2 separate regions of the Homo sapiens genome follow, and region 1 is linked to region 2. Evidence: fine-mapped expression QTL. A gene starts in region 2. The other region holds a variant in brackets. All regions are shown on one strand. Distances are from middle to middle. Region 1 overlaps MPP2 (MAGUK p55 scaffold protein 2). Region 2 holds the start of MPP2 (MAGUK p55 scaffold protein 2).

Evidence for each region. PIP is the estimated chance that this variant, and not a neighbour inherited with it, causes the effect. A credible set is the group of variants that fine-mapping cannot tell apart.
Region 1: its variant is the best candidate, but not a certain one, in a credible set for the expression of MPP2 in nucleus accumbens (GTEx, PIP 0.84).

What each region holds. Positions count from the first base shown.
Region 1 is chr17:43,873,842-43,877,841 of GRCh38, reverse strand. MPP2 (MAGUK p55 scaffold protein 2) reads left to right here. Exons shown (of 13, transcript NM_005374.5): 13 at 1-2,482. The coding sequence ends at 35. Among named protein-coding and RNA genes, the nearest start is that of CD300LG, 29 kb to the right of the region's middle. The variant C/T (reference allele first, on the strand shown) is at 2,403.
Region 2 is chr17:43,905,673-43,910,188 of GRCh38, reverse strand. It overlaps MPP2 (MAGUK p55 scaffold protein 2), which reads left to right and starts at 2,653. Exons shown (of 13, transcript NM_005374.5): 1 at 2,653-2,715. RefSeq lists an enhancer at 2,494-2,643.

The DNA of each region.
Region 1 (4,000 bases), 32 kb after region 2:
AGCCCCAGTGGGTGCCTGTCAGCTGGGTGTACTGAGCCTGTTCACCTGGTCTTTGGCTCACTCTGTGTTGAAACCCAGAACCTGAATCCATCCCCCTCCTGACCTGTGACCCCCTGCCACAATCCTTAGCCCCCATATCTGGCTGTCCTTGGGTAACAGCTCCCAGCAGGCCCTAAGTCTGGCTTCAGCACAGAGGCGTGCACTGCCAGGGAGGTGGGCATTCATGGGGTACCTTGTGCCCAGGTGCTGCCCACTCCTGATGCCCATTGGTCACCAGATATCTCTGAGGGCCAAGCTATGCCCAGGAATGTGTCAGAGTCACCTCCATAATGGTCAGTACAGAGAAGAGAAAAGCTGCTTTGGGACCACATGGTCAGTAGGCACACTGCCCCCTGCCACCCCTCCCCAGTCACCAGTTCTCCTCTGGACTGGCCACACCCACCCCATTCCTGGACTCCTCCCACCTCTCACCCCTGTGTCGGAGGAACAGGCCTTGGGCTGTTTCCGTGTGACCAGGGGAATGTGTGGCCCGCTGGCAGCCAGGCAGGCCCGGGTGGTGGTGCCAGCCTGGTGCCATCTTGAAGGCTGGAGGAGTCAGAGTGAGAGCTAGTGGCCACAGCTGCAGAGCACTGCAGCTCCCAGCTCCTTTGGAAAGGGACAGGGTCGCAGGGCAGATGCTGCTCGGTCCTTCCCTCATCCACAGCTTCTCACTGCCGAAGTTTCTCCAGATTTCTCCAATGTGTCCTGACAGGTCAGCCCTGCTCCCCACAGGGCCAGGCTGGCAGGGGCCAGTGGGCTCAGCCCAGGTAGGGGCAGGATGGAGGGCTGAGCCCTGTGACAACCTGCTGTTACCAACTGAAGAGCCCCAAGCTCTCCATGGCCCACAGCAGGCACAGGTCTGAGCTCTATGTCCTTGACCTTGGTCCATTTGGTTTTCTGTCTAGCCAGGTCCAGGTAGCCCACTTGCATCAGGGCTGCTGGGTTGGAGGGGCTAAGGAGGAGTGCAGAGGGGACCTTGGGAGCCTGGGCTTGAAGGACAGTTGCCCTCCAGGAGGTTCCTCACACACAACTCCAGAGGCGCCATTTACACTGTAGTCTGTACAACCTGTGGTTCCACGTGCATGTTCGGCACCTGTCTGTGCCTCTGGCACCAGGTTGTGTGTATGTGTGTGCGTGTGCACGTGCGTGTGTGTGTGTGTGTGTCAGGTTTAATTTGGGGAGGAAGCAAAGGGTTTTGTTTTGGAGGTCACTCTTTGGGGCCCCTTTCTGGGGGTTCCCCATCAGCCCTCATTTCTTATAATACCCTGATCCCAGACTCCAAAGCCCTGGTCCTTTCCTGATGTCTCCTCCCTTGTCTTATTGTCCCCCTACCCTAAATGCCCCCCTGCCATAACTTGGGGAGGGCAGTTTTGTAAAATAGGAGACTCCCTTTAAGAAAGAATGCTGTCCTAGATGTACTTGGGCATCTCATCCTTCATTATTCTCTGCATTCCTTCCGGGGGGAGCCTGTCCTCAGAGGGGACAACCTGTGACACCCTGAGTCCAAACCCTTGTGCCTCCCAGTTCTTCCAAGTGTCTAACTAGTCTTCGCTGCAGCGTCAGCCAAAGCTGGCCCCTGAACCACTGTGTGCCCATTTCCTAGGGAAGGGGAAGGAGAATAAACAGAATATTTATTACAAATGTTAGAATATATTTCTTATACTAGGAATCTCATTTGCATTTGCATAGACTATACACATGGGGTGGAAAGGCCAGGCCTGCCCCCATCTCGTTGGTGTGGCTCTGCGTATACTACACACTCATTCTCCTGCTCCTCTTTTCCCTTAGTCAGTGTCCTTTCATCCTGATTCAGCTCTGCCTTGCATCACCCTCAGCCTAAGGGAGTGGGAAGGAAATGGGGTGTTTTCTTGCTGACCTGAGGCTATAGGGTCACTTGCCATTTCCTACCTTCTCTGGGGGATTTGAGGGTAGAGGCAGGGGAAGATCTGTTGTTGCAGCTGCTTCTGCCCCCTTGATCCAAATGACCATCATCTCTGATGGAGATGGGTTGGGTACCTGGCCTTCATGGCACCTTCACTGCTAGGGATGCTCAAGGGGCAGGCCTGGGGCCCTTCCCTCCTGTCTCTTCTCGGTCTTTCCTCTCTGAGCAGCCTCCTACCTCCCCTGCCTGAGCCCTCACTCCACAGCCCTCCCAGGTACCTAGCAGAGGCTGTCAGTCCTTGGCTCACCTGGAACAGGGCTGGGGCTGGGTTGGAACAGGTGTGTGCCCCCACCACAGCTCTATGACTCTGTTCTCCCTCCCTGCCATTGTGGACTCTTGTATTTGAGGGACCTCAAGAGAGTGAGGACCCTACCATCCACTGTCCATATTCAGTCCCAGCCCCAGTGCGCTTCCTCTGTTC[C/T]CTCCCTCAGCCATCCAATTCTTGAGTTTTCTCACTGATTGGTTTTCTTTCTTTTTCCTTGGATTAAATGTGAAAGCAAAGGCTTCTGGCTCTGCTTTTCTTTGGTTGGGGTTGGATGGATGGCTTTGGGAGAGAGTGAGAGCTGGGGAGCACAGCACAGATGACTACTAGAATGGAAGTCAGAGCAACATGTCTTGTTTTCTGCGATGTCTTCCTTTCCTCTGTCTTGCCCCTGCACACTCCCCCATCCCCAGAAGATGCTCCTTCTAAGTGCTTGTACCCAAGGACATGAACAGACATTTCTCAAAAGAAGACATACAAGTGACAATGTATGAAAAAGTGCTTTACGTCACTAATCATCAGAGAAATGCAAACCAAAACTACCATGAGTTACCATCTCACACCAGTCAGAATGGCTATTAAAAGGTCAAAAAATAAGAGATGCTGGTGAAGTTGCAGACAAGAGGGAGTGCTTATACACTATTGGTGGGAACGTACATTAGTTCAGCCCCCGTGGAAAGCTGTTTGGGGAGTTCTCATAGAACTACCATTCATTCCAGCAATCCCATCACTGGGCATCTACCCAAAGGAGAAGAAATCGTTCCACCAAAAAGATACCTGCACTTGTGTGACTGTCACTATGGGACTGAATGAAGGAGGATGTACGCCACTTGTGACAGTTACTACAGGACCGAACAAAAGAGGACAAATGCAGAAATGAAAACAAGACAAAAGAATCTGCTTTAAAGAAGGGGTCCTTGCTTTTGCTTCTAGTGAGCAAGGGCCCTGAGCTTCCACAGCCCTCCATATTTATTGGGTAGAAAGAGCAGGGAGGAGCAGGTAACCTTTGGTCAGCTGCTTGATTTATCACAGGTTCACATAATTGCTGACAGGCTTCATGTGTGCCTGTAGATAATCACAAACACTGCGCCTGAGGTGTGACTGCCCTCAGCATTCCTTCTGGGTGGCAGACGCAGTTTGTCAGTTTGCCAGCATTCTGCATTATGAGAACAGTTTGCTCATACAGCCTCCAGTGGTATACTGAGTTGATCATGACCCTCATTCTTTCGGCCTCCAACATCTCCCCCTTTTTGTTTTTACATTAATTGAACAAAATCTGTCCTCATGTTATGGGGGTTGATGTCAGTGTGACTCTGGTCAGTCCTCACTCTGTCTTTGCACTCAGATTCAACTGGCTCATGGCTCATACCAGGGGAACCAGGCCCATGGTTGGGATCCATGGGTCCCTCCAGTCTCCTGTTCCATGGTTGCACACACCTTGAGGGCACCCACATGGTTTGTCCATCTCCTATAAAAACATAAGCATACCCTCGTCCCCACGTTAGTAAATCTATAGGCAGTGGGAAACATATTCTGAGGTTCCTTAATGCTTTTCCTACAAAATGCTGACATGACGTAGGACTGCTGAGCATGCCTTGGGGTAAAACTTTCCATTGATAATGAGAAACAGGCTTTCTCCAATCAACAGAAGGCACAGAAAACAAATCGAGGCTTATCCTTCTCGTGTAAAGGTATAGTAAAAAAAAAAAATCTCCAAGATCCATTACTGCCAGAGGCCAGTCTCTTGCTCCCGTATC
Region 2 (4,516 bases):
GACCTCTGAGGCTGAGGCAGGGAGGAAGGCAGAGCTAATTACAAACCTCAGAGAAGGAGGACTCATTCCCCTCTTGAGGTAGGGGGCAGCCCTTAACTACTAGGGGATGCATTGCCGACCTTCAAACCTGCTTCCCTTCCCAGCTACTCCATTGCCAACCATTAGCAGCTCTATTCCTTTGGGGAACAGCTTAGGACACACTGCACCTTTATTATGGCATTCAGCTGTGCTACCAAGAAGCGCTTTTTGTATCTATGTAACACACTCCTTTCCGACTTCAACCCCAGACTGTGAACTCTAGGAGGTTAGGGCCCTTATCTCAGTATCACAGTAAGTGGTACCTTGCCTGGCACAGAAGAGGAGCATCCTATTCTGCATCAATAAATGTTTCTTCTCATTCTGTAACTGCACAAGGCTGTTGTGAGAATGAAACAATTTGTCAATTGTAAGGTCCTGAACAGATGTGAGAGGCTGGCATTCTGCAAGGCCTTTATTAGAGAGATACTTGTTGACCGACGAATGCAGTGGGGCAGCCGCTAAGAATAATGAGTTGGGCTCCACCTCCCCAGGTGGGCCAGAATCTGAGATCCCAGACTGTCCTGAGGATCCTAAATGGAATGGAAGATTTGATGTGGGTCGCTATGGAGGTAATAATTGCTTGATTAAGAAGTAATTAATATCTTGTAGAGATTCAAGATCCTTCCTCTTCCAAAATACAAATAGCTGAGTGATTTCCAGCCCAGAGGTGGACAGGTGACAGTGGAGGGTAGCCTTTATAATGGAAAGGGGAACTCTTCCTGAATTCAATTATAAGGATTTTCTAGGCCGGGTGCAGTGGCTCATGCCTGCAATCCCAGCACTTTGGGAGGCTGAGGTGGGCAGATCACCTGAGGTCAGGAGTTCGAGACCAGCCTGACCAACATGGAGAAACCCTGTCTCTACTAAAAATACAAAATTAGCCAGGCATGGTGGCGCATACCTGTAATCCCAGCTACTCGGGAAGCTGAGGCAGGAGAATTGCTTGAACCCGGGAGGCAGAGGTTGCGACGAGCCGAGATCATGCCATTGCACCCCAGCCTGGGCAACAAGAGCGAAACTCCGTCTCAAAAAATAAAAATAAAAAAGAAGAAGAAGAAGAAGGATTTTCTAGCTTGCAGATAGAGGAAAGAGCTGCAAGCAATGCGCTCCAAGAACCCTCTTTGTTTAGAGACCAAAGCCTGCAATTCCTGTCAAAGCTATCTGGGTTCGATGGCTTTCTTCTCTCAGTAAAAGCCTGGGTCACCTAAACAATGTGGTTTTCAGCAGTTCGGCCGCCTCTGTGGCTTTTTCCTATATCCAAACTTATACCCTTGGAACTCAGGGGAGAGCTGAGTCTTGGAACCCAGGGACCAGTCCCCTGCTTTCGGGATAGATTCCCATTTCTGAGATTTCCAAGCAAGTTTCCAGAATGTAATCCATTTCTTTTCTTTTTGTTTCTTTTGAGACAGGGTCTCACTCTGTTGCCCAGGCTGGAGTGCGGTGTTGCAATCTCGGCTCACTGCAGCCTCAGCTTCCCAAGTAGCTGGGACTACAGGCGCGCGCTACCACGCCCAGCTAATTTTGTTTATTTTATTTTTTGTAGCGATGGGGTTTCACTATGTTGCTTGGGCTAGTCTCGAACTCCTAGGCTCAACCGATGCTCCCGCCTCCGACTCCCAAAGTGTTGGGATTATGGGAGTGAGCCACCGCGCCCGGCCAAAGATGCAGTCCATTTATGATCTTAGGAATCCAGTTAGCAAGGAAAAGGGATGACTCTCACATTTTGTTCAGGGCAACTGGACGGGGTGGCTGAACGCCGAGGTCGGAGAAGTAGCGTAGCTGGCCCCAAATGCTAGTCGCACTGCACAGAGCCTCCCGTATTTGGAGGCCCAGCATCTTTTACTAGCAGATGTGGGGTGGAGCCGGAGGCTGGGCGAAGGCGGGCCAGTGGGTTTAACCCTTTATTTACTTTTTGGGCTGGGACTCTGAGGAAGGCTAGCCAGTTACTTCTTTATTCCATAGGCAGGAAAATGGACCAGGCCTCCCTCACCTAGACCTAAAAGAGGCTCTCGAATCCTTTCAGGAAGACATTTCCTCTTTTTTGCAAAATTTCTGGAAAGTCTGGAATCCGGATATCCACCCTCTGAGTCCTTAAAAAGCTGCCCCTGATCCCGAGGCCTTCTGGGGCTGGTATCCTGCTTCCTGGGAGTCTCTCTGAAGTCCTCCTATTCTTTTTCTCAATATGGAAGCAGGATAACGAGGAAAAGTGAGGCACGCCTGGAACTAGAACGCCGGTCTAAGCCAAGATGGGTGGGCGGAGTAATCAAGCCGGTCTCATTAGGCACTTTTACCATCGCCCCTTTAAGGGATCCTTGGGAGCCGAGGGGCACCAGCGGGTACTGGTACCAGTCCTGCCTCCCTAACCCTTCCCAGTGGGACTCCAGCAGGGCGTCGTGGTCTGTGCGGTGTCTCCCAAACCACTACCTGGCTGCCCCCGTACCAGCTGCTGGGAAAGACTACTTCCTCCGAGTTGTGCCGGCCTCCGCGTTCTCCTCACCTCCCCTCTCCTCCGGACCTCCGCCCCCTCGCGGAGAGGCCTTGCCGCTTTAAGAGCCGGGCTAGCGATTGACAAGCAATAAACGCTGAGCGCCCGGCTGCGCTGGAGCCGCCCGGAGCTAGGGGCTTCCCGGGGCGCAGGTAGGCGTCCCCCGGCCCCCGGGCCAGCTCCTATCCCAAGACCTCCGCCTTCTTTTCGTCCTGACACGGCACTTAGGACCCTATTCACTGGGTTTAAACTCCACAGGCCCCTTTCACCCAGGCCCGTTCCCTCCCTGTCCACCCGCCCCCGCCCCTGGGCCCTCTTTCTGGGGTGCTGGTTGGGAGAACCAAGCCCCGCTGCCCATTGACACTGGTCCCCGCCCCTGCGGTAGGGGCTCCAAAGTGGCTTCAGGCACCAAGGTGGTGAGCTGTGAGGGGCCCCGGTATCTGCGCGGCCTCCCCGGGGGCTGTGCGGGTTGGGGGTACTTAGAAGCCCGGCATTACGTAAGAACCGTGCTGTTAGCGCTTCCGGGGGTTGGGGAGCGAGACAGAGGTTGCGCTGGGTCCCGGTGGCCCCCTGGTCCCCCTAGGCAGCTAACACCACAATCTTCCCTGGGAGGGGGTCCGCAGAAGGGCGCGCGCTGCTTCTCCCGCTTCCCAAGCTGTAGCGGGGCGGGTCGGGAGCCAGGGTTAGGGTCTGGAGACTTGGGAGGGGACCGGTGCCAGAAGCGAAGAGCTAGGGTTAGAAAGTTAGGTCAATTAAGGGGGGGGCGGTGCGGATAAAGACGGGGTGGGGGTTGGCCGGGGCAGTCATTTAGTGACCTCATCCCTGGTCTCCGGCGGGCGCGCACGTAGAGAGCCTTCTTTGATGGCTCACAACACGCCCCCCTCCCCCAGGTCCTAGCGCCCAGGGTGTTAGGGCTGGGTCCGTTGGGGCAGGGGTGATCTGATGGTCCAAGCATGCACGTCCGCCTGGCCTTTCGACCCCATCCTCTGGCCCTCAGTTCTGTCCAGACCTCCCCGCGACCTCTCGCTCTCCAAAGCGCCTTTGTCAGACCTTTCTTCTCCGCACCTCTTTGTATGTGTATGGATGGAGGGATGGGTGGGAGGTTGGAAGAAACCTCTCCCTTTCACTGCTGGTCCGCTCGCCTGCGGACACTATGGGTGATGTGGATATCTCGGAGGCAGAGCTGAGAGGGCATCTGGGCCCAGGCTTTTGGAAGCCGAGGTGCAGGTTCCCAGATGTCTGGGTGCAGGACCTTGGCACGGAGCCAGGCTAGCTTGCCTGGCACTGCCGTTCTCCTGTGGACACAGCCAGGCCCCGCCCTCTCAGAGGCTTGGACGGGCGTGGGGGAGCAAAGCCAGCCGATGCTCTGGGAACCGATTCCCCGGGAGAAAACCCAGGCAGGCTGGGCAAGACTTCCGAGCGCAGGGATTTCATACAGGATCCTCCCTGCCTTTTCCCGCCCTCCACGCTCTAGGGAAGGAGGACTTCTGGAGTCCCTTCTCTGACCCTGTGAGGGAGAGCAGCGCCAGCCAGGAGAAGGCTCCAGGTCATCAAGGCCTGGGAGGGGGAGGGAAGGGATCCCTCCTCCCTGCTCTCTAGGAGTAGAGATTGGCACCAGGGGCACGGGCCAGCACAGTGGATCCTGGGCATTTCTTCCAGCCTGGGTGTAGCCTGAATAGGGGTGCCCTTCCTCTCCCTGAAAGCACCTTTATTCCATGTCCTCAGCGGCAGAGCTGGGAGGAAAGGGAACCATCCCCCTCACTTTTGTAATTTCTGTCACCTGAGCTCAGGTGACCAGCTCAGGCCTGAGAAGGGAATGGGAGCAGAGAGGGTTTTATTGAAATCAGGTACTAGTCCTCTGGGAAGAATCCTCTTTTGGGGGGAGGTGGAGTTGCCGTGGTTCCCCCACCCCCAGGACTCAGCAGGCATTCAGTCCTAAAGTGGGCACTGCCA